Homo sapiens: one gene and its partners. The protein of the gene in region 3 purifies or fractionates together with the protein of the main gene of each other region. This does not show direct contact. Each region holds a gene or a part of one and is shown on either strand. Other genes may lie near its edges.

Region 1 (3,500 bases), about 67 Mb from region 3:
GTTTTAAAGTACAAGAATTCCAGATGTTTATCGTATTCTTCAGGTAACTAGTGGTAAATGATGCAGGTGGTCCATCATACTCAGTTCATGCATCATTTCAAATTGAAGCTGATATTTAATTGAGTTTCTTTTTACTTTGAATAAATGTCCGGCTTTCATCATGTTGTGGAACATATCAAATGAAAGAATTCAGTTTTAGAACAAATATGTTTAAAATAGAATTGTTTTACTTGGTTTGGTTGCCTAAATATTGTTCCCAATGTCTCATATACACAGGCTATTCCGGTTAAATTGGTCCATGATAGCTTAGAGGATCTTCAAATGACTCGTTATCATTTTGCAATGAATGGAAAATCATTCTCAGTGATACTGGAGCATTTTCAAGACCTTGTTCCTAAGGTAAGTAATTTGGGTGTATGTGTGTGCTCACATGAATGCATCGCAACAGTATTTTAAAAAAATTTGTATTATTGTTTCCAGTTGATGTTGCATGGCACCGTGTTTGCCCGTATGGCACCTGATCAGAAGACACAGTTGATAGAAGCATTGCAAAATGTTGAGTAAGTATTGGTGTCTTTTTTGGTTTTGGTTTTTGATGAATGATGGTTTCATTTCAGCATCAGAAAAATAATTTTTATATGTTTCTTATACTAATATTTCATATTTATATATATAATTGTGATCTATAAGATAGTTCAGAACTTTAAGTGCCGCTTTAAAAGAGTCTCATGTGCTTTTTATTTAGCTAAAGTACAATATCCACAGTTTTTTCTCTATGACTTCATTCTTTCAGGTGCTCTATCTTGATAGAAGTGGCTAATCATTTTAGTAAACAGTTATGTTTCAGGTTATTAAGGGATAAATTTTTACTGATAACGTTAAAAGTAGCCATACTAAAGACTGTAGGCACAAGCGCTTTGCTCTAAAGATGAGGAAATTGAGACACCAAAATGATTTGCCGATAATGTGACAGAAATAGGACAATAACCTAGCTCATTTCACTTGTGGTCTGGTGCTGTTTGCAAAGCAGCACACCTGTGTTCATTATAGTGAAAAGATTCATAGTTCCACTGGGGGAATCTTGGTGTGTTAGCTCTTTATAATACTGTAATAGAAAAGTCTTAATAAGTTAAATGTTTTGTAGTTTAAGAAATTAATTAAAATCTTAACATTGTTTTGTTTCTTAGTTATTTTGTTGGGATGTGTGGTGATGGCGCAAATGATTGTGGTGTAAGTATAGTTTTTGTGATTTAGTTTTATAGTTCTTACTCTAGCCTAAATCATATTCACAAAACTTAACCAGTTTTCTTAAAATTATTAGGCTTTGAAGAGGGCACACGGAGGCATTTCCTTATCGGAGCTCGAAGCTTCAGTGGCATCTCCCTTTACCTCTAAGACTCCTAGTATTTCCTGTGTGCCAAACCTTATCAGGTAGTACAAATTAAAATTTTTCTCATCCCTTTTTCTCTGTCTCTGATAATACAGAAGAGAAAATTATCATAAAAAGTAACATGAATTTGTTTAATATTAGCAGATTAGCACATTTGAGCTGTAACTTATTAGTAACAGATTGATTGCTACTCCTCATTTGGTTTAGTTCTTTTGGTGGATAAGCACTTTGTTGTAGCCGTTGAATGTTGATGTTCATCTGTCAAGATAAAATTGTGGTTTGGAAAAGGAGTTTAAAATGCTTCTATTCATATGCCGACATTTGATTTCTTTTCACAGGGAAGGCCGTGCTGCTTTAATAACTTCCTTCTGTGTGTTTAAATTCATGGCATTGTACAGCATTATCCAGTACTTCAGTGTTACTCTGCTGTATTCTGTGAGTATTAACATTGTGTGCAGAGATAACACTTAATGTGCACCGTAAATTAAGATGTTGAGCGTATGTGTTTGATTTTGAATGCATCCATTAGTAATTGTTTCTGTGAGTAGTACCTATAAATTTACCTTCAATTTACTGTAGTTTGAATAGCAAATTGAAAAAGTTAAAATGAGAAAAGATGTTTCAACAGTGGTTTGTTGAATTTGGAGAATGGTTTGCATTTGGAGAAAAAGTATAAACAGCGATGGCCACAGGTACCCTATCAGATTTTATAATCAAAGTGTTCTGACATCCTAAAGACTCATGGTGACACTATCCCATTTGACCGTTTGTAGAAAGTATCAGAAGGGATGGTATTAGATGAAGATACTAATTTACAACGTTGAATATTTTGAGTAAATGTTTGTGTTTTCTTTTTGCCAAAAAAACCATGTTGGCCAGGGTGGTCTCGATCTCTTGACCTAGTGATCTGCCCGCCTCGGCCTCCCAAAGTGCTGGGATTACAGGTGTGAGTCACCGCGCCCAGCCTATTGAACGAATTTTAAGGAGATGCCTTTTATACTAATATACTAAATCAAATATTTATAAATATATGTTATATTTAGTTTCAGAGACACTTATATTTCAATTTTTAAGCAGGTCCGAGTGTCATTTTTAAGTTGTCATTATAGGGAAAATCCAAACTATTAATAAAACCTGGGGACGCTATAAAAATAATTCCCAAAAACTAATAATGTTTTTAAAATTACTTCTGTAGATCTTAAGTAACCTAGGAGACTTCCAGTTTCTCTTCATTGATCTGGCAATCATTTTGGTAGTGGTATTTACAAGTGAGTATTTTGCTTTGTTATTGATTTTTAAAGTGTATGAAATTCTGATGTGACTTATTAAATTTTTGTAAATTTACATCAACAATTGTAACATAGCTCACACCTCTCCAGATTCCTTGTAAATATGTTATTTTATTACCAGTTGTTTATATCTTGCGCCAATTTTTTAATTGTTCTGTCTCTATTTTTTTCCCTGAAATATTTGAAAATAAGTTTTGAGTCATTATGCTCTTTTGCCTCTGACAATTTTAGTATATATTTTCTAAAAGCAAAACCATTCTTTTATGTAACTAAATACAGTTGTAAAGATCAGGAAATTTAACATTGATATAATATCTGGTGCAAAACCTATATTCAGGTTTTGTCATTTGTGTCAACAATGTCCTTTATGCCTATTTTCCCGTAGTCCCCTAGATTAGAACAAAAAATATCTCCAGACATTGCCAGATGCTCCTTTGGGGTGCAAAATCCTCCAGTTGAGAACCACTTATCTTTAGTAGATGATAAAACTAGTGAAAGTTTGATGAGGAGCAGGATTTTCACAGTCTCAAAGTATCTTTTCACAAGGTGCTAGTTACAAAGGGAAAAATAGAAATTTCTTTTTTTCTTTTTTTTTTTTTTTTTGAGACAGAGTCTGTCTCTGTCACCCAGGCTGGAGTGCAGTGGCACGATCTCAGCTCACTGCAACCTCCGCCTCCCGAGTTCAAGCGATTCTCCTGCCTCAGCCTCCTGAGTAGCTGGGATTACAGGTGTGCACCATCATGCCCTGCTAATTTTTATATTTTTAGTAGAATCGGGGTTTCACCATGTTGGCCAGGCCAGTCTCTAACTCCTGACCTCAA
Region 2 (3,500 bases), on a different chromosome or scaffold from region 3:
ATTCTGATAGCAATGGCGAGCCAATATAATTTTGGGAAGAGTGATATGACATTAGGATTTTTGTTTTATTTTCATTGTCAGGATGGCATCAGAAGTGGCTTTCTGCCTCTTAGAAACCTTGTTGATTCTCTTAACCTGAAACTTAAAGTTGGCTAGGGTTAAACAGAAGATGTCCAAAATAACAGTATTAAGGAGAATTTTTTAAATCTTTGGAACCAAAATAACTCACACATAATTCTTTAAGAAAAGAATATATATACATATGTACATACACATATATATAATATTTATACATATGTACATTTATTTATGTATTTATTTATTTATTTCGAGATGGGGTCTCGCTCTGTTGCCCAGGCTTGAGTAAAGTGTGAACCTGGCTCACTGCTTGACTTCCCGGGCTCATGCGATCCTTCCACCTTGGTGTCCTGAGTAGCTGGGACTACAGGCATGTACCACTATGCCTGGCTAATTTTTTTCTTTTCAATTTTTTTGTAGAGACAGGGTCTCAGTATATTTCCTAGGCTGGTCTTGAACTCCTGGGCTCAACTGATCCTCCTGACTCAGTCACCCAAAGTGGTGGAATTACAGGCATGAGCCACCATGGCCAGCCAAGAAAAAGATATATTTATTGGCTGGGTGCGGTGGCTCACGCCTGTAATCCCAGCACTTTGGGAGGCCAAGGCGGGCGGATCACGAGGTCAGGAGATCAAGACCATCCTGGCTAACACGGTGAAACCCCGTCTCTACTAAAGGTAAAAAAAAATTAGCCGGGCGTGGTGGTGGGTACCTGTAGTCCCAGCTACTCCTTCACCGCAGAATGGGGCTGCGACAGAGTGAATATCCTGTTTGCCGTGTAGCCTATATTTAAAATCAGACTGTCCTCCTCAAAAGCAGCTGGAACTGAGGTTCAAGAGATGGATGTGACTGTGTATAGGGAGAGGCATACCATTTTTATTTTTAAAGTATCAAGAGAAATCATGATTTCACATTAACAATACAAAGTTGCAAAAGCAAATGTGAATAATGAGCAGGTACTGATTTGGCCAGCTTTATAAATGTGTAACTTTTAAAACTGGGTTATTCATCTTTTTAAAAATAGTTTGTGGAAGCTCATTGTGTATAGAGAAAATTGGCCTATTGTCTGTTGTGAATTATAGTTTTTTTTCAGTTTGACCTTCTTAAAGTTTTTTTCCCCCTTAAGGGTATTACATTCGCCCATGAAATTATATAGTAAAATCAATCAATTTTTTTCCTTTAGAGCTTCTTGGGTTTTATGCCCTATTAAGAAAGGCTTCCCCCAACTCCCAGATTATAAAATAATACATCTAGACTTTCTTCAGTCAAGTACTCTATAAATCTGTATTTTATTTTTAAAAATAACAACAGAGTAAGGAGTAACGGTAAGGGTGAAACATTACCTTGATCAAAATACCATTTATTGACTGGCTTATATTTTCTCCCAGTGATATTGGATACTGCTTTTCTCATAAGTTAATTTCTCATATGTGTTTGAACTCTCTGTTCTGCTAAGGCTTTCCCATGTGATTTCCTAAACTTGGGTGGTTAATCCCCTCTAGTTGCCACTTGGTCTCCTCTCTCATTGGTGAGCCCTATCTTTACTATCCCCAAACTAACTATACACTAGCAGGGGCCAGGGAGACTAGCCAGGATGTCAGATACTTTGACTGAATGCCTAAGAGAGAATCTCAGGGGTTTTACTATAATAGTTGCCTGAACTTACTTTCTTTTTGAGACAGAGTCTCACTCTGTCACCGAGGCCAGAGTGCAGTGGCACAATCTTGACTCACTGCAAACTCCACCTCCCAGGCTCAAGAGATTCTCACGCCTCAGCCTCCTGAGTAGCTGGTATTACAGGTGTGCACCACCACACCCAGTTCATTTCTATATTTTTAGTAGAGACAGGGTTTTGCCATGTTGGCCAGGCTGGTCTCAAACTCCTGGCCTCAAGTTATCCCTCTGCCTCGGCCTCCCAAAGTGCTGGCATTACAGGCATGAGCCCCAAGCACAACCACATATATAGCTTTAATTAGGTGAATTTTCAGTAGAAATTTCCAGTAGAGCTATTTGGCAAACTATTTCTTTTTCAGTTCAAGTTGCCTTATCCATTTAAAAATAAAGAGTGTGGTCTGGAGCTAAAAAGCCTGGGTTTGAATTTCTGCTCAGCCATTTACTAGCTCTGTGACTTTGGATGACTTACTAAAAGTTGTCTCCACCACATAGGTTTATTGTGAATATTAAATCCATAAATACACATAAAGTGTCTAGAATAAGTGCTTGATGTATATTGAGTACTTAATAAATATTGGTTATTTATATCATAGGAACCACTATATCATATCATAGGAACTCTGAAGATGATTAAATATCTAAATGCTGATTTGTATATGTTTGTTTGAAAGGGGACAATTCATCTCTTTCGAAAACCACAAAGATCCTTTTTTGGCAAGTTGTTACGGGAATTTAGACTTGTAGCAGCTGACCGAAGGGTAAGTTATTCCTTAACCCCAATTTTAATTATTGCACAAACAACATTATAACATTGAAGAAAGATAATTTTTAAGGCCAATAGAAATCACTCCTGATCCTGCCACACTGTTTTCATTTTTCTATGTTGGAAAAGTATTTTTTTAGTGTAAAATTGCAGTTGTTTGGTGTTAAGTTGTTTTACTTTGGTAGGAAGCTTCTGTTAAAGTTTTGATTCTAATTCTGAAGTGTTTTAAAGAAAAATGGTTTTGTGGTTGCTTTTTGTTATTAAGTTTTCAAAAAATTAAATGGATCCAGTCTAAAGCCATGTTTTCTCTTTTATTTATTTTTTTTTTTTTGAGATGAAGTTACACTCTTGTTGCCTAAGCTGGAGTGCAATGGCATGATCTTGGCTCACCGCAACCTCTGCCTCCCGGGTTCAAGCGATTCTCCTGCCTCAGCCTCCCAAGTAGCTGGGATTACAGGCATGGGCCACCACGCCCGGCTAATTTTTTGTATTTTTAGTAGAGATGGGGTTTCACCATGTTGGTCAGGCTGATCTCGAACTCCCGACCTCAGGTGATCCGCCCACCTCGGCCTCCCAAAGTGCTGGGATTACAGGCGTGAACCACCGTGCCTGGCCCATGTTTTCTCATTTTTAATGTAGGGCAAGAAAAATATGTTTTGAGACTGTAAATAAAAAGATGTAATTGCCATCCTTTTAGGCCACCAATGTAAACCTTCTAGTTACTGTGTTTCATGCTTCTCATTGTTGTCTAAATGATAAACTCTCTGAGGGAAGTGACTGTCTCTATTTTGCTCACCTTTTTATAGAAGTACAATATAAACATTCAGTAAATATTTGATGACTTTTAAGTAAAGCCAGCTTCAATGAAACAATAATAAGCAGTACCAATGGGCACTCCAATTGAAACTCTGCCATATTTTCACTATTTTTCAACTCCGTTATCCTCATTTGCTTCCTTATCCAACTTAGATTCTATGCTCCATCA
Region 3 (3,500 bases):
AGCTCTGGCCCTCAGCAGCGCTGTGGCCTCACACAAGTCAGTGGCCTCTGAGTTCTGCATGGTGTGGCAGGTCAGAACCATGGCTGACCGCTACCAAGAACTCCTCACGTGTGTGCCTTGTTTGAGGCACTCGGCATCACCACAGCCTCACTTGTTACACCCATTCCATGGTGGGGGGACACAGGCACGGAGAGGACAGGAAGGAAGGGGCAGGGCTGGGCTGTGAACCCAGAGCCTATGCTCTTACCCACGCTGCTCTCATGGGCCCTCAGGACTGAAAGGAGCCAAGTGGCTGTGCCTTGCACATGGAGATGCTTAGCTGAGGGGGTGGCTTTGTTAGACTATTTGCAGGTCGTGAGATAGAGCCTGAGATGGGGGACTGGGCCCCTGCCTGGGGGATTGGGTCGTGACCTGTGTGGAGCCCCACACTGAGCTGCAGTGGGTGGGGAGGGTGGTTTACAGGGGTGCTCTGTGCAGCCCCTCTGATTTTCCCCTGGGAGTCCCAGGTCCAGGGGAAGGAGGACAGTGGCCCAGGCCACACAGCTCACTGGGCGGCTCTCACTCCCCCAGGGCTGGCTGCTGGCGGGATGGACACCCTGGAGGAGGTGACTTGGGCCAATGGGAGCACAGCGCTACCCCCACCCCTGGCACCAAACATCAGTGTGCCTCATCGCTGCCTGCTGCTGCTCTACGAAGACATTGGCACCTCCAGGTGAGGCAGTCACAACGCTGGGCAGGCTCGCTGAGTGTCAGTGGCTTTTCCTGGTGTAGGGGGGTGGTGAGGGTGGGGCAGATTGTGTCTTGGAGAGGGGGTGCATATGTGGCCTCGCCAGTGAGCCAGCTCCTGTGCCCATCCGCCAGGGTCCGGTACTGGGACCTCTTGCTGCTCATCCCCAATGTGCTCTTCCTCATCTTCCTGCTCTGGAAGCTTCCATCTGCTCGGGCGAAGATCCGCATCACCTCCAGCCCCATTTTTATCACCTTCTACATCCTGGTGAGTTCACTGCAGTTGACAGAAAAGCCAACTCCAACTGGGTTAAACAAAAAGGGAATTAACTGCTTCTATAATGAAAATAAGCTTCAGGTATGGCTGGATCCAGGCAGTTAAATGATATCGTTAGGATCTGTTTCTGCATCTCTGATCTCTTTGGGACTTATCTCAGATGAGTTCCCCTCATATGGTGTCAAAGATGGCCAGGAGCAACTTTGAGCTAACATCCTGCCTCTACAACTCAGGCAAACAGTGCCTGTTTGCTGATAGTGCCAGTGTAGACCTGGGATTTCCTCTGACTGGCCCACCTAGGATCCCATCCTCATCCCTGAGCCAAGCACTGTGGCTAGCAAGGAAAGGGGCACTGTGAAGCTGGGAGGGCAGCATCAGCTCAGCTGGACCATATGGACTGAGGGAGCCCACAACAGAATTGGGGAGCTGGTACTAGAGGGGAGGGGAATGGATGCTGGGTGGGGAAAATGCCCACTGCATCCTCCATCCATTCGTCCCCCATCTGTCCATTCTGTGAAACCTCTTTGGAGAAGACATCTTACTTGCTGGGAGAGCCTGCATTGTCACCACTTGGTGGTCCTGGCACGTGTTGCCTGGGGAGAGGTGTCAGGGCTGTGGTTGAGAAGGCAGCTCCAAATGTGGGCTCTCCTGGTATAGGCTCCAGGTGTGGGCTGTCCCAGTATAGGTGCCAGGTGTGGGCTTCAGGTGTGGGCTGTCCAGGTGTGGGCTTCGGGTGTGGGCTCTCCAGGTGTAGGCTTCCGGTGCGGGCTGTCCTGGTGTGGGCTTCGGGTGTGGGCTGTCCAGCTGCCTTCCTTCAGGGCGCCCTTCCCCTGTCTGCAGGGCCTGCCTGACTGGAGTCCTCCCTTCTCTGTGGCCCTTAGATACCACCACATGAGAGCTGAGTGGCTCCCTGGTCCCCTCCTTGTGGTCTAGCCCAGAACTTCCCAGTCAGAGGAGTGGGCTGTGGGCAGGCAGAGAGACAGACAAGGGGCTGGGGAAGCCTGGAGGTTGTAGTGGCCTGATGTCCCTCACACCTACAAGATGGTGGTAGACAGGACTGGGAACTGAGGCCTGCTTTCTTTGCTTCTCTCCCACTGCTTCTCTCACCATTTATTCATTTGTGTATTTATTCAACAGATATTAAACACCTACTGTATGCTAGGCAGATGTCCTTTTGTGGGGTAAGGGGGAGTGCAGGCAGGGAGAAAGAGCCAGGGCTAAATGTCCAGGAACATATAACAGGGCCCAGCCCATCAACTTTTGGGGACTTTGTCCTAAAGAGTTCAGGAGGCAGTGTTAAGAGTGGACTCAGGAAGTCCAGCTCTGAACCCCAGCCATGCTGCTGTGTGACCTGGGGCCAGTGGCTTGGTCTCTCTGTGCCCCAGTGCCCTTCTGCATAACAGATGTTGATCTGCTTTAGCTATGGTGTTCATGTGAGCACCTATGAAGTCGTCTGCATAGCTGCAGCCCAGTGGGAGCCTGGCATACAGTAGGCGTGTGGTAGTTTGTTGCTTTTACTGCCTGCCCTGCTGACACAATTTCTCATGGCACAAAAGACAGAGTATATATGGATCTGGGCATGTGTCAGAAGACCCAACTGAGACTCACAGAAGCCAGTTTTTGACTGAGAAACTGGGCAGTTCCTGGGCCTCAGGCACAGCAGGATTTGGGGGCACAGCAGTGCTGCTGGGGCACCATCTCCATCTCCCACTCAGCCTGGGATCTCCCCGATGGCCCTGCTCTCTCGCCATCTGCCCTTGTGGCAGCAGGGTGGTGTCCATGGTGCCAGGCTTGCATGCTGTCCGTCTGCCTTTCCCAGCAGCCCCACCTGACATCCTGGGTCTCTCTCACAAGGCTCCCTTGGGGCCTATGCCCTTCCCTGAACTAGCCCTGAGGCCAGGGGAATGGCACACACCACTGGCCAGTGCTGCGTCCCAGGCCCATCCCTGAAGCCAGGAGCGGTGGACTCAGCCTCACCTGGAACCACCGAAGTGGGGGTGAGAAGGGAGAGGAAGGGGATGGATATACCAGGCCGATAAGCACCACAGATGCTGAGCAGGCACTTTGTGAAACCTGCTGGGCTGGTGGCTTCCCTAGAGGTCTCTGCACCTCTTCTCGGTGACCTTTTGCCTGGTCCCGCATGCCTCAGAATTAAAACCATGAATACGGTAATAACAGCAAATGTATACTTGGCCCTTCCTGGGTGCCAGGCAGGCTTCTGCTGCATCTGTTAATCCATTTGACCCAACAATCAAACACAGTAGGTTTTGTTTCTGCCCCCATTTTATAGATGAGAAAGCTAAGGTACAGAGCCAGGAAGCAGCAGCGTGCTGCTTGTGATGTGAACCTGGCCCATCTGGCTCCACCATGCGCACTCCTGCTCACCAGCCCAAGGCTGTTGGTGCTAGCCAGGAAGCTGGGGCCCCGAGAGGGAGGGCCAGGCTGGAAGTCACCTGCAGTTGAGGGTCTGCAACTCTGTGAGCCTTGCTTCCTGGAG
Region 4 (3,500 bases), on a different chromosome or scaffold from region 3:
CGACTCTCCTGCCTCAGCCTCCCAAGTAGCTGGGATTACAGGTGCCTGTCACCATACCTGACTAATTTTTTTTTTTTGTATTTTTAGTAGAGACAAGGTTTCACCATGTTGGCCAGGCTGGTTTCGAACTCCTGACCTCAAGTGATCTGCCCGTCTCGGCCTCCCAAAGTGCTAGAATTACAGGCATGAACCACCGTGCCAGGTCTAATTTTTGTATTTTTAGTAGAGATGGGGTTTCACCATGTTGCCCAGGTTGGTCTCGAACTCCTAACCTCAAGTGATCTGCCCTCCTCATCCTCCCAAAGTGCAGGGATTACAGGTGTCAGCCACTGCATCTGGCCTGGGCACAGTTTTTCAGTGGGAGCCCAGAGGGCACTGATGCCCTCATTTCTCCTTACCAATATCAAGGATGAGAAGAGGGGTCCAAGCAAAGAGACTAACGGTGGGGAAGTGGGCAGCCAGTAGACAGCTGGGCCCAGACCTGTTCTTCCCCCCAACATCCTTCCCCTCTCCTCTTCTCTTTACAATTTAACTTTTTTCTTTTTTTGAGACAGGGTCTCACTCTGTTGCCCAGCCTGGAGTGCAGTGGTATGATCATGGCTCACTGTAGCCTCAGCCTCCTGGGTTCAGGTGATTCTCCTGCTTCAGCCTCATGAGTAGCTGGGACTACAGGTGCTCACCATCACACCCAGCTAATTATTATTATTATTATTTTTTGAGGCAGAGTTTCATTCTTGTTGCCCAGGCTGGAGTGCAATGGCATGATCTCGGCTCACTGCAACCTCTGCTTCCCAGGTTCAAGCGATTCTCCTGCCTCAGCCTCCCGGGTAGCTGGGATTACAGGCATGAGCCACCATGCCCGGCTAATTTTGTATTTTTAGTAGAGACGGGTTTCTCCATGTTGGTCAGGCTGGTCTCGAACTTCCAACCTCAGGTGATTCACCTGCCTTGGCCTCCCAAAGTGCTGGGATTACAGGCGTGAGCCACTGAGCCCAGCCTGCTATTGTTTTTTAATTTTAATTTTTTGTAGAGATGAAGCTTTTGCCATGTTGCCCAAGCTGGTCTTGAACTCCTGGGCTCAGGTGATCCACCCACCTTGGCCTCTCAGCGTTGGGATTACAGGCCTGAGCCACTGCACTTGGCCTACAGTTTAATATTTTAAACCATTTTTTCCTTCATTATAGAAAAGTTCAAACAAACACAGAAATAGGATAGTATGATAAACTCCACTAGCCAGCACCTAGCATCAACAATTAGCAATAGTTAATCAGATTTCCCCTGAAGACCTCCACTGTCCTACTATTGGATGATTTTGAAGTAAATCCTACCTAGACTTATTTGGAAATACTTTATTATGTCTCTAAAACATAAGGATGTATTGTAACAAAATCTTTCAAAGCTAAAACTCCTATCATCTGCAAACCTTTGGGTAAATCCATTAATACATGGCTCAGATGAGCAAACCAGTGCAGTGGTTGCTGAAAACTGTAGGCCAGATGGGGCTGGTGGTCTTGGAGCCACTGGAATGAGGGCACGTGTGTTAAAAATACAGATCCCCAGCCGGTGCCTTGGGTCACGCCTGTAACCCCAGCACTATGGGAGGCTGAGGAGCGAGGATCACTCCAGGCTGGGAGTTTGAGACCAGCCTGGTCAACACAGGGAGAATCCCGTCTCTACAAAAAATATCGGGCTTGGTGGCGCACACCTGTAGTCCCAGCTACTTAGGAGGCCAAGGCGGGAGGATCGCTTGAGCCCGGGAGTTCAAAGCTTCAGTGCGTTATGAGTTTGCCTGTGAATAGCCACTGAACTCCAGACTGGGCTACAGGGCGAGACCCTGTCGAAAAAAAAAAAAAAAGGAAAGAAAAGAAAGAAAGGAAGGAAGGAAGAAAAAGAAAGAAAGAAAAGAAAAGAAAGAAAGAGAAAGAAAGAAAAGAAAGAAAGAACGAAAGAAAGAAAGAAAAAGAAAGAAAGAAAGAAAGAAAGAAAGAAAGAAAGAAAGAAAGAAAGAAAGAAAGAAAGAAAGAGAGAAAAAGAAAGAAAAAGAAAAGACAGACCCCAAAAATCCCCAAATAGATCCCTCGACTGAGCTCTGGGGACCCGTACTGAAGAGGTCTGGGTAGGACCTCCCCGCCTCCTCAGGGGAGTAAGCGGCGTGGGCCGTGCCAGCGGGGGTGACCCCGGGGGCTGTGTATGGGTGGGGGCGCACCCCGAACTGAGCCCACGGGGCGCTGTCCCGCCTGCAGATGTTCGGGCAGCGGCGCAGCGCGCAGGCGTTGGAGCTGGCGCACATGCTGTACTATCGCAGTACGTCCAACAACTCGGAGCTGCTCAGCGCCCTGGCCCTGCGCGCGCAGGACGAGCACACCAAGGAGGCGCTGCTGGCTCACAGCTTCCTGGCCCGGCGGCCAGGGGGCACTCAAGGCTCGCCCGAAGGTAGGACGTGGCCCTGGGACCCTGCCCCCAGGGGCCACACCCCCGCGAGGCCCCGCCCCAGCGAGATGCGTCCCCACCCCCAGTTCCCACGGGTGAACCTGACGGGTTTGCGAAGAGACCCCGGCCCTCAGCAGACAGGACCTCCGAATCCAGACTCCGATCTTGGTGCCTGATGTGACAGCCCTTTCTTAACCTCAGCCTGGTTGGGAGTCTTGGCTCCATGGCACGGCCCCCTCCTGTCATTCTTTCCTCTACCTGAGCTGACACTCTCCCTACAAGAGATCCTGCGCGCTCCCTGTGTGGGCTCCAGGTGGTCCCCTTGCCTACAGGAGCCCCCACCTTCCCTGCCCAAGAGCCCCTGACTGGTCCCCAGACGAAAGCCCCAGAGCTGGGCCTTCTGGCCCTCTCGACCCTCCTGGGCCTTGTTCCGCTCCCCTCCAAGCCTCAAGATCACTCCTAGGCTTCTCCCAAACCCAGGCCCTTCCTGTTCTTTGCCCTACGCCCCTCCTTGCTGCTCCCTCGAATCTTCCCCGATCTCAGTGTGACCTCAGAACACCTGCCTCTCCCCTTGCAGAGACCTCCAGGTGGCTCCGGTCGGAGGTGGAGAACTGGCTCCTAGCCAAGTCAGGCTGTGAGGTGACCTTCAACGGAACTCGGGCCCTGGCGCATCTGCAGGCCCTGACCCCCAGCATGGGATTGTACCCACCCCCGGGTTTCCCCAAACTAGACCCAGTGGCTCCGATCACTTCCGAGCCCCCGCAAGCCACGCCCAGCAGTAACATCTCCTGAGTAGAACCTACCTCCCTGCCCAGTCAGCAGGCTAGGAACTAAGCCCCGCCTCCTTCACGACAGGCTGTCAATTACGGTTATTATACTTTTCACTCCAACTTCCAATAACTGACAGGTGATTATTTTTGCTGCACTGTGTGCTTAAGCAAAGCAGCCAATCAAAGCAGCTAGCAGTTGTTAAGTCTTCCCCGCCCCTTCGATGAACAGCCAATCAAAGCGATTTAGCTCTGCTTCTGTTCCATTTCTTAGTCCCACCCTCACCATAAACATCCAAGTGT
Region 5 (3,500 bases), on a different chromosome or scaffold from region 3:
TTAGTAGAGACGGGGTTTCACCGTGTTAGCCAGGATGGTCTCGATCTCCTGACCCTGTGATCCGCCCGCCTCGGCCTCCCAAAGTGCTGGGATTACAGGCGTGAGCCACCGCACCTGGCCCTGTCTTTTTTTTTTTTGAGACATAGTCTCACTCTGTTGCCCAGGCTGGAGTGCAGTGGCACGATCTTGGCTCACTGCAACCTCTGCCTTCTGGGTTCAAGCGATTCTCCTGCCTCAACCTCCCGAGTAGCTGGGGCTACAGGTGCGTGCCACCATACCCGGCTAATTTTTGTATTTTTAGTAGAGACGAGGTTTCACCATGTTGGCCAGGCTGGTCTCGAACTCCTGACCTCAGGTGATCCGCCTGCCTTGGCCTCCCAAAGTGCTAGGATTACAGGCGTGAGCCACTGTGCTCGGCCAAGGGAGCATAATCTTTGAGCTTAATTCCATTCAGTATTTATCAAATGCCCGATTCACATCCCCTTATTTACTTCACATTTTTTAAAAATGAAGATTTGGAAATTATTTGTATTAAAAGTAATATAAGTAATATAATTCTGTTCCTTAAGATGGAATTTGCACTTAAGATATACCACCTCGACAGTCAATGTACCTACCCATAGGAGAAAATCCGAGTGGCTTTCCACCTACTCATCAGGGCAGCAAAAAGTCCCATGACTAAAGCAGAGCAGTCAAAAAGCATGTGGAATCCATCCGAGATCAGGCCCAGACTATTGGTCAGCACGCCATAGAATAATTCCACAAAGGTAAAAAGCTAAAAATGTCACCAAAAAAAAAGGGAGGAGTATGTTGGGCACTGTTTCAATTAGGAGGATTTTAACCCTTAATTATCCAAATTTACTTGAAGATCTGCTATAATTGTTTAGTTATTTAACTGCCACTTACATTAGAAACCCTATTTCACACAAATTGTAAAAACTAAGATAAACCCATTTTACAAACTATTAAATTGTAAAAAACTAAGATAAATCCATTTTAGAAACTATTTAAAAATGGTTTTGTTTATATGTCTATAAAAATAATAAACTAGGTTATAAAATGTTAGCAATAGGTGATTTATAACACTGATTGCTAATAGTGAGATCCTGTAAGTTATTAGAACTCTTTAAATGCTACTATATTTACTGATTTGAAGGAACATACTAAATCAATGCTTCTAAAATGCCTCACAAATTGTTTGCTTAAGTGGCTGGGCACGGTGGCACATGCCTTAAGGATTGCCTAAGGAATCTGAATATGATCTCGTAATCTTGCTATTATACTTAGAAAAAATTTAAATTTTAGCTCATCTTATTATCAGAAATTTGGGAAGTACTAAACTTATACCAGAACTGTCAAAATTAAAATATTATGCTTTTAGGATATGTCAATTAACATTTAAAAATCTTACCAGATTCAAGCACAAGAAGTAAAAGATCTGCCTAGAGTCACTCTCCTCAAGAATTTGTTTTAGTGATTCCTTAATAAACCTAGGGATCGATTGAGAGCTATGCTGAAAAGCATCACCCATGAAGTTATAAAGAGGTGTTCCTTCAGGAGAATATCCAATAAGGGTACCTTTTTGTCCTCTCTTAGAGGGAGATGATAAGATATTGGCAGCTACAAAGAGAAAAAACAATATTGTTTAAATTTTCGAAGTTTAAGCTACCAAAACCAACACAGTAACTGTCGGCACTAAATGCAAGCACTGAAGAATTTCCCAAAATAAGTAAATGATGTGACCATCAAAATCCATAAATAGAAATTTGTTAAAATAAAAAAAAGGGGGGAATGCTTACACAAAATGAAGAATATAGCACTCACTACCACTCCTCCAGACAGGACGTGTTCAGTGCTCTCCTGGTGTGCTGCTTTGTTCATAGCCCGAAGCTGGTCTGTTATTGGATGTGTCCAAAAATTTCCAAAAAGGAGAGCACTAATAAAAATGGGAAAGGATCCATAACGAGCACATTTGGAAACTTCCATTTTGACTGAACAAATGGAATCCACGTAGAAATCCAGGATCATGACAAAAAAGATAACCGTTGCAAAAGGCATAATGAGAGAAAACCAAGACTCCACTTTACTCTAGAAATTAAAAAAAAGAATTGTCAAGACTATACATGTATAAAGTTCACATCTTACAAGATGTTTCTGTTAATCTTTTAAAAAAATAAAAATCGCATGATTCAATATGATTCATAATATGCCAACATATAAAAGCTATAAGATATTGGTACATTTTCTCAGTATTCTCCAAAGTTTTAAAAAACAAAAGCACTATTGTGTAATCATTCGATGAACACTAGGCGACACACAATCTTTAAGCCTAACACATGGTTAATTGCTCCTTCTTCAAATGATTCCTTTGGGCCATAGCAATGTGAGGGATATGTAAATGTAATAGCATTTGATTTGTATTTTCTATAAACAATAAAATTAACTCCAAATTTTTTTTAAAAAACTACAAAGAAAAAGCAAAGACAATTTAAGCCACTTTCAACCTCAAATTAAAATATAATTTATTGAATACAGTGAACTAAAAATTTAATAGCAATTCATTTTACTAGCAATTTAATACCAATAAATTCTTGCTCTTATCTTACCTCAGTTGTCACAGAAAGAACAATGACCCATGGGCACAAGAGAAGCACAGAAACAAGATGAGATAAAGCTTGAAGACGTTTAGCTCCACCAACGTCGACAGAGAGCTTTCTGGAAGCTGTATGAAAACCAACTTTACAACACAAAGCCAGTACTAGCAATAATACTCCACCCTGTGAGTAAAATTAGATAAGTCTCATTAGAAACACACACAGTTCAACAGTCAGTCGTTAAATACATGATCTTTTTTTTTTTTTTTTTTTTTTTTTTTTTTCCCCAGAGACAGGGTCTTGCTCTGCCACCCAGGCTGAAGTATAGTGGCATGATCACAGCTCACTGCAGCCTCAAACTCCTGTGATCAAAGAGATCCTCCTGTCTCAGCCTCCCAAGTAGCCGGGACTACTGGCACACACCACCACACCATGCTAACATAATATTTAAGGAAATGGAACTAGTATATTTTTCCCATATACTCAATTACGTAACTACTTAAATGGCCGGCAATGTTATAACTTACTGATAATTATTTTATTTTATTTTTTTTGAGACAGAGTTTCGCTTTTGTTGCCCAGGCTGGAGTGCAATAGCGCGACCTTGGCTCACTGCAACCTCGGCCTCCCGGGTTCAAGTGATTCTCCTGCCTCAGCCTCCAGAGGAGCTGGGATTACAGGCATGTGCCACCATGCCTGGCTAATTTTGTATTTTTAGTAGAGATGGGGTTTTTCTATGTCAGTCAGGCTGGTCTTGAACTCCCGACCTCAGGTGATCCACCTGCCTTGGCCCCCAAAGTGCTGGGATTTCAGGCGTGAGCCACTGGGCCCAGCTGATAATTTATTTTAAATGTACCTTTATAGTTATAGTTGCTACAACTTTTCAGAATCTTTTGATCCTGTTAG
Region 6 (3,500 bases), on a different chromosome or scaffold from region 3:
AAAATACCAAACTTAAGAACAATTTGATTCTAACTCACTAGATAACATTAGACTAACCACTTTACCTTTCTGGACCTTAGCTTCCTCATCAGTAAAATTATGGGTGTTGGATGGCATAAAAACTTAAATTTCTAAATTCCTTCACAATTTTCAAAACACTGTCACAGGTATTTCATTTCACTCCACTGAGCAGGGACTTTGTTTTATTCACTGCTGTATCCCCAGCATCTGGTTGGTACAAAGTATGCCCAAAATATTAGTTGAATAAGATGAATTTTGATCCTGACAATTATCCTGAGAGGAACACAGAACAGGGCAGTTATTATTACACTTATTTTACATATGAGAAAAACCAAGGTTCAGAGTTTAAAGACACTTGCTCACAGTCCCATAGCTAGAGGTGGAGCTAGAATGCAAACTCAAGTTTTCAGATTACTAGTTCAAATCTCTTCCCAGGTCTAAAATGTGTTACACATTTTTATATATTTTTCAATAGTCAGGCACAAGAATAATGAATTCTTCCTATTCTCACCCTTTCAAAGAAAAAAAAAGTCATCAGGATAGTGTTGCTATAGAAAGCAATAAAAAATATTTAGAAGAGTTATCTGAAAGAATACCTAACACTCAATAATGGTGCATATGAAATAAAAGAGATTAAATTCAAATTCTGACTTTCTTTGATTATACCAATTATATGTTCTGTGTTCCACAGTGAGTCTGCATCTGTAATTCTGGCTGGCTACTTTGTAAATTCTTGCTCCTAATCACGAGGGATGAGGAGTACAAATCTATCTCTGTAACAATTATTGTTCAAATCATAAAACTTGTGCCAGGCTCCCCAATGAGGTTGGGAAACACATCCAATGCCCTTCCTCTAGCCAACTCCAAATCTAAAGCTTTATAATCAATGGAGATAGAGGAAAGGGCCTGAGAGGGCAGCATGGCTGGAAATACCTAGCAGGGCAATCTTTGCGTGTGATGGTAGCAACATATTTTAATGGAATAAAAAAAAAAAATCTACAAACTCATCCAAACATAAAATCTTTCTTTCAAAAATAAATAATTTCTAGAACACAAGTATTCCCTTTCACATAACGTTGCCCATTAAAAGGCTTTCAAAAAGTTAGACATCAAGGATGGAGGGGAAAAAAAGCCTTCAAAAATAAAAATGAAAGTAAACATAATTTAAACAGGTGTGAAATAGCCTCCCATCAAAAAAAATCAAGCAGTTTAAGTACAAGAATAGAAGTCAAAACACTTTCATCATATGGGAAGCAGTATATAGCTGGTTTGTAAAGTAAGAATTTTAGTATATCTGACAAAAAAAGTTTGTTAAAACAAACTCACCAAAATATACTTCTTTTCTGAAAAATATAAACTTGAATATTTTCCACTGACTTATGTTCCTTTGGTCCCTTCTCGTCCAAGAGGACTTCCAATAGATATGTGTCATAATTAGGAGAAGGGTTACAGCAAAACTATGTGGAGAAGAGCAGTTACACTGAAACTAATCTATTTTCATAGCACTCACATAAAACAGAGGGTCTAGGGAAGGGGGAGGGGGGAAGTAGCAATAAGTGGGGTAACAGATTTGAAAAGTCACCTGATTTGGACCCTAAAGAAAAAACTACCAAACAGACTTAGAAAGCAGGGCTTAATCAAAATAACATTCTGTAAAAACCTAAAATCTGGGGTAATTTAAAGGTTTTAAGAGCTCTAGTTGTAAAATCTTGGAGTTATCCCACAGTAATAATCTGCTGTTCTACTTACCTTTTAATAAACAATTCCTCCCCTTAAAAGTTGTTTTCCTTACTGGTACAAACCATACATCTAAATTTTTCTGCATAAATACAATGTCGTGTCCTTACCTAGTAGCAAACTGAATGAGTGCGTTTTGAAGAGTCTGCCTAATTTCAAGAAGAAAAGATTCATCATCGCTTAGTGTATAATACCAATACTGGACATAATCCCTCAAGGAAAACTGGATAACCTATAACAAAAATATTGGAAAAAAAATTACAACATTTTAGGATTTAAAAAGTTACAGTGGTAAACTAAAAAAGTATGCTGTATCTACCAATTTATATTTACTCTCTACGTATTAATTTATGGTGGTAAATACCTGCCCTCATTACAAAAACATCAACATACTAAAAACCATTTCAAACATTTTTAAATTATTCTGGTATCCCAACTTACCTACTGCCTAGATTTAAAAAAAAAAATAAAATAAAACACTATCTATGGCCAAGTCCCACATAAATCCAGGTAAAGACAGGGTTTGCAGAAAAAAAAGAAACTTTCCATGCTATAATCTAATAAATAATATCAATCAGTTTAATGGAATGAGATGTAAAATAATAGAGACTATAATTCCACAAAAAAAGTTTTTTTAAAGATTATATCATCAGATCCATTGCAGTCTAATTATAAAAATGATACAGGAGTTCACTTATTTCTACTAATACCTTTGATACTGCCAACAGTATTCAGACAATAAATAGTACATAATACAACTCAATGTATAATTTTTACAAATCAGATAAACTAAATATTAGTAATAATAATAAATGTTAAAATTCTAAAGTACACATTTTTATAATCATATAATCAAACATCAATGAAAAATATTTCAGGGGGCATAGTTTTTTTACCTATCTCTAATTTTTTAATGTTTTTGCATCGGATATTTCTTTTCCATTTTTTAAAAGGTAACAAGTAGGAAAAAAAGTCTGATTTACCACACCACTAAGCTTGTTCATCAACGAAAGAGTAACACTTTAACTGTAAAATTTTAAGAAACACTATCAAATGTCAATAACAACTTTTTTTCTAAATCCAAATTCAATCGAAAGGCTTTTACATAAAGTAAACCACCTCATTAGAAGTGAGTTAATAAATAAGGAAGCATCTTCAAGTATAAAATTCAAGGATAACATTAAGAAATTCCAGGATATTATTTAAAGAGCAAAAAGTATTTCCTGGTATCTTCAAAAGAAATATACCTAGAACACAATATATAGAATTCAAATACCACACGCTGAAACTCACTTGCTGGAGAGGTTCATCAATTATATTGGCACCCGTCAATCTTCTATCAATCTTAATAGTCCTGGCTTCCCGTTTCATTTCTTCTAAGCACTTAAAGGAAATCAAAATATCTTACTGAGTAGTTTTCTGATGTAAAATCTCTCCAGTTTAATTCCAGTTGAATACTCAATGTAACATCCCTTCATTATCCTCAAGTAAATAAATAACCTTATTTGAGGTGCTACTCTATAAGCCAAACACTATTTCTCAAGTTAACAAAATTAGACACTCCCAAAAAAATGATTATCCTCAAAAATTTAATCAGCAAAAATTATTTAGAATGTGGGAAAACTGCAAATGTACAGGTATGCTGCTGCCATATTTCAATGAAACTCTACAACTATAAAATTAGTGTTTCATGTGAGTCAAACTGTCTTTACTGGACACTCTCCCTCTTGCCCCTCCCCTTT
Region 7 (3,500 bases), on a different chromosome or scaffold from region 3:
CAAAAACTACCTGGGTGTGGTGGCACACACCTGTAGTCTGAGCTATTCAGGAGGCTGAGGCAGGAGAATTGCTTGAAGCCAGGAGGTGGAAGTTGCAATGAGCCAAGATCACACCACTGCACTCTAGCTTGGGCAACAGAGTGAGACACCATCTCAAAAAAAAGAAAGCTCTTGAATGTGTTATCTAAACAAAGTCCATTTACAGGGCCATCTGTGGCCTGTGGTCTAGTAGTGTGAGACTCATATGGAAACCCCCTCTTCATTGTGCATGCAGAGACGCTGAGGTCCTGAGAAGTCAGTCACTGCTGACCCAAAGCCATCCTTCAAGTGAAGGCAGAGCTGGGACGGGAGCCAGGCTCTGTGTGTCTATCCCTCTGCCTCCAGGGTGAAAGACATGCTTTTCTCCCATTAGGTGGACCCAGGCCCAACGCCGATCCCCCACAACAGCTCATCACGATTTGACTGCAACTCTGTCTCTACGGCTGTGCGTACTCATCTCACCTGGTCCTTGCCTGACCCAGGGCCCCTGGGTCTATAGACCCCACTCCCAGCCCTTCACTACCCAGCTGGGACTGTCATGATTAAAACAGTTGAGACCTGGGCTGGGCGCACTGGCTCACACTTGTAATCCCAGCACTTTGGGAGACCAAGGTGGGAGGATCACTTGAGCCTAGGAGTTTGAGACCAGCCTGGGCAGTATAGTGAGACCCCCATCTTAAAGAAAAAAATTAAAAAATATATATATATAAAATAATTGAGACCTTAATATAATTTCTGAGGCTGAGGCGGATGGATCACTTGAGACCAGGAGTTCAAGACCAGCCTGGCCAACATGGTGAAACCCCATCTGTACTAAAAATACAAAAATTAGCCAGGCATGGTGGTGCACGCCTGTAATCCCAGCTACTCAGGAGGCTGAGGCAGGAGAATCACTTGAACCCAGGAGGTGGAGGTTGTAGTGAGCCAAGATCGAGCCACTACACTCCAGCCTGGGTGGCAGAATGAGACTCACTCTCAAAATATATATATATATAGTTTCTGAGTCCTTTCTGTCTGCACCATATATTAGCTCATTTAAGCCACACAGCAGTCCTGTGAGCTAGGTGCTATGATATTCCCATTTTCCAGATGAGGAAACTGAAGCTCAGAGAGTATAAACTCTTGACACACAACTAAGGAGTGGGAGAGCTGAGACTTGAACCCAGGCGTGCCTGACTCCAGAGCCTGTGTTTGTAGCAGGCCTGTTTGGCCAGCTCCTGCCTCTCCTTGGCCACGTGGTTGGGAGGGTTGTCCCCTGGAAGCTCTGCGGTCTCACTCTATTCTCCTGTCCCAGGCTGTGCTCCTGGCGGACATCCTCCCCACACTCGTCATCAAATTGTTGGCTCCTCTTGGCCTTCACCTGCTGCCCTACAGGTCTGGGTGAGGGTAGTGGGAGGCAGGGTGGGCAGGAGCTGAGAAAGGGGAGGCTGGGATGGCTGAGATGCTGAGAGTAGAGACCGACCTTCCCCCTCCCTTCCCTTCTCACCCCCTCAGCCCCCGGGTTCTCGTCAGTGGGATTTGTGCTGCTGGAAGCTTCGTCCTGGTTGCCTTTTCTCATTCTGTGGGGACCAGCCTGTGTGGTGAGTGTGTGGTTCTGTGTCAGATGGGGAGCCCCGAGGAACCACATCAGAGCATTTGTGGGAAGAGTCTCCCCAGCCTCCCAGAGGAAAGGGATTCATTCTGTCACCCTTAGAAGCCTGCTAGGGCTATCAGCAGTAGGCGATGGGAGACTGGGACAATTTGGAGGGGTAGGCAGTGGAGGAGATGGGAGAAAATGGATGAATTAGATGGAGATTGAGGTGAACAAAGTCAAGACTCTGTGATGGACCAGGCACAGTGACTCATGCCTATAATCCCAGCACTTTGGAAAGCCAAGGCAGGCAGATCACCTGAGGTCAGGAGTTCGAAACCAGCCTGGCCAACATGGAGAAACCCCGTCTCTACCAAAAATACAAAAATTAGCTGGGTGTGGTGGCAGGAGCCTGTAATCCCAGCTACTCGGGAGGCTGAGGCAGGAGAATCTCTTGAACCTGGGAGGCAGAGGTTGCAGTGAGCCGAGATCACGCCACTGTACTCCAGCCTGGGTGACAGGGCGAGACTCCGTCTCCAAAAAGAAAAGAAAAGAAAAAGACTGATGAAGGGGCAGAGACATCAAGGGTGCATGTCTGCCCCTGGTCTGATAACTGGGTGGATGGAGGTGCCACTCTCCATGAAGGGACACGCAGGGGAGTGGGGCTCTGCTTCAGACCTGGAACCTGGCCTATGCATGGGATCTATTGGAGCCTCTATGAGCTGATACTGAGGAGGCCATGGCCAGACACATTAGAGGCCTGGGCAGTGTGGCAAGGTGTGGTGTGACCATCCCAGTGCTTGTCCTCCCCCCAGGTGTGGTCTTCGCTAGCATCTCATCAGGCCTTGGGGAGGTCACCTTCCTCTCCCTCACTGCCTTCTACCCCAGGTAAGCAGGTGGAGCAGGGAGTGTGGGGAGAGGCTGTCCCATGGTCAGCCTAGGTCCTCCTGAATGTTCCTGTGTTCTCCTTCCCAGGGCCGTGATCTCCTGGTGGTCCTCAGGGACTGGGGGAGCTGGGCTGCTGGGGGCCCTGTCCTACCTGGGCCTCACCCAGGCCGGCCTCTCCCCTCAGCAGACCCTGCTGTCCATGCTGGGTATCCCTGCCCTGCTGCTGGCCAGGTGAGCTGCCCTGAGCCGGGAGGGAGAGGGGTCCAAGGAGAGAAAACTTGGCCATGGCTGGGTGTGGTGGCTCACGCCTGTAATCCCAGCACTTTGGGAGGCCAAGGAGGGCAGATCGCCTAAGGTCAGGAAACCAGCCTGGCCAACATGGTGAAACCCCGTCTCTACTAAAAATACAACAATTAGCCAGGTGTGGTGGCGGGTGCCTGTAGTCCCAACTACTCAGGAGGCTAAGGCAGGAGAATCGCTTGAACCCCGGAGGCAGTGGTGGCAGTGAGCCGAGATCGTGCCATTGCACTCCAGCCCGGGCGACAGAGTTAGACTCTGTCTCAGGAAGAAAAAAAAAAAAAGAAAGAAAAGAAAACTTGATTATGATTGCAATCTTCAAGTCCCTACCTTGCTGTGAAGGGAGGCGGAATCTGGACTCTGATAGCCCCAGGTGTGAGTCCTGGAGCTGCCACTTTTTAGCTTTGTAGCGTTGAACAAGTTACTCCACCTCTCTGAACCCTCAGTTTCCCCATATCTCAAATGGCAGTTGTTCTTGCTTTCCTTGGAGGTGATGAGGGTAATGCATTCAGCACAGTGTGGTTCCCAAGGTGATTAGAAGTAGGATGAGGGTGGACTTTATTTGATTAGTTCCTTTTTTTTTTTTTTTTTTTTTTAATCAGTGTTGACCAGGTTGGCCTCGAATGTGTAGCCTTGCCTGCCTGAGTGCCAGGGCAACAGGCCTGAACCATGGCGACTCCCTTTTTTTTTTTTTTTTTTTTTTTTT

The links.
Region 1: the proteins of TPRA1 (region 3) and ATP13A3 purify together in Homo sapiens (affinity purification with mass spectrometry; 2 studies listed by BioGRID and IntAct, with this or other methods). This does not show direct contact.
Region 2: the proteins of TPRA1 (region 3) and SLC30A6 purify together in Homo sapiens (affinity purification with mass spectrometry; 2 studies listed by BioGRID and IntAct, with this or other methods). This does not show direct contact.
Region 4: the proteins of TPRA1 (region 3) and TMEM143 purify together in Homo sapiens (affinity purification with mass spectrometry; 2 studies listed by BioGRID and IntAct, with this or other methods). This does not show direct contact.
Region 5: the proteins of TPRA1 (region 3) and SLC30A5 purify together in Homo sapiens (affinity purification with mass spectrometry; 2 studies listed by BioGRID and IntAct, with this or other methods). This does not show direct contact.
Region 6: the proteins of TPRA1 (region 3) and SNX13 purify together in Homo sapiens (affinity purification with mass spectrometry; 2 studies listed by BioGRID and IntAct, with this or other methods). This does not show direct contact.
Region 7: the proteins of TPRA1 (region 3) and CLN3 purify together in Homo sapiens (affinity purification with mass spectrometry; one large-scale study listed by BioGRID and IntAct). This does not show direct contact.

Annotation. Positions count from the first base shown.
Region 1 is NC_000003.12:194,428,003-194,431,502, reverse strand, and holds part of ATP13A3 (polyamine-transporting ATPase 13A3), read left to right. Parts: intron 1-276; coding exon 277-399; intron 400-480; coding exon 481-560; intron 561-1,187; coding exon 1,188-1,230; intron 1,231-1,321; coding exon 1,322-1,431; intron 1,432-1,728; coding exon 1,729-1,825; intron 1,826-2,585; coding exon 2,586-2,658; intron 2,659-3,500. UniProt on the Homo sapiens protein: ATP-driven pump involved in endocytosis-dependent polyamine transport. Uses ATP as an energy source to transfer polyamine precursor putrescine from the endosomal compartment to the cytosol.
Region 2 is NC_000002.12:32,168,864-32,172,363, forward strand, and holds part of SLC30A6 (zinc transporter 6), read left to right. Parts: intron 1-2,423; coding exon 2,424-2,510; intron 2,511-3,500. UniProt on the Homo sapiens protein: Has probably no intrinsic transporter activity but together with SLC30A5 forms a functional zinc ion:proton antiporter heterodimer, mediating zinc entry into the lumen of organelles along the secretory pathway.
Region 3 is NC_000003.12:127,577,234-127,580,733, reverse strand, and holds part of TPRA1 (transmembrane protein adipocyte-associated 1), read left to right. Parts: intron 1-570; coding exon of another isoform or gene 571-587; coding exon 588-712; intron 713-861; coding exon 862-994; intron 995-3,500.
Region 4 is NC_000019.10:48,332,941-48,336,440, reverse strand, and holds part of TMEM143 (transmembrane protein 143), read left to right. Parts: intron 1-2,243; coding exon 2,244-2,433; intron 2,434-3,007; coding exon 3,008-3,222; 3' UTR 3,223-3,500.
Region 5 is NC_000005.10:69,114,514-69,118,013, reverse strand, and holds part of SLC30A5 (proton-coupled zinc antiporter SLC30A5), read right to left. Parts: intron 2,778-3,500; coding exon 2,607-2,777; intron 2,089-2,606; coding exon 1,800-2,088; intron 1,621-1,799; coding exon 1,412-1,620; intron 776-1,411; coding exon 618-775; intron 1-617. UniProt on the Homo sapiens protein: Together with SLC30A6 forms a functional proton-coupled zinc ion antiporter mediating zinc entry into the lumen of organelles along the secretory pathway.
Region 6 is NC_000007.14:17,888,495-17,891,994, forward strand, and holds part of SNX13 (sorting nexin-13), read right to left. Parts: intron 3,142-3,500; coding exon 3,052-3,141; intron 1,991-3,051; coding exon 1,869-1,990; intron 295-1,868; exon of another isoform or gene 66-294; intron 1-65. UniProt on the Homo sapiens protein: May be involved in several stages of intracellular trafficking. May play a role in endosome homeostasis. Acts as a GAP for Galphas.
Region 7 is NC_000016.10:28,485,575-28,489,074, reverse strand, and holds part of CLN3 (battenin), read left to right. Parts: intron 1-412; coding exon 413-484; intron 485-1,333; coding exon 1,334-1,413; intron 1,414-1,533; coding exon 1,534-1,619; intron 1,620-2,424; coding exon 2,425-2,497; intron 2,498-2,584; coding exon 2,585-2,728; intron 2,729-3,500.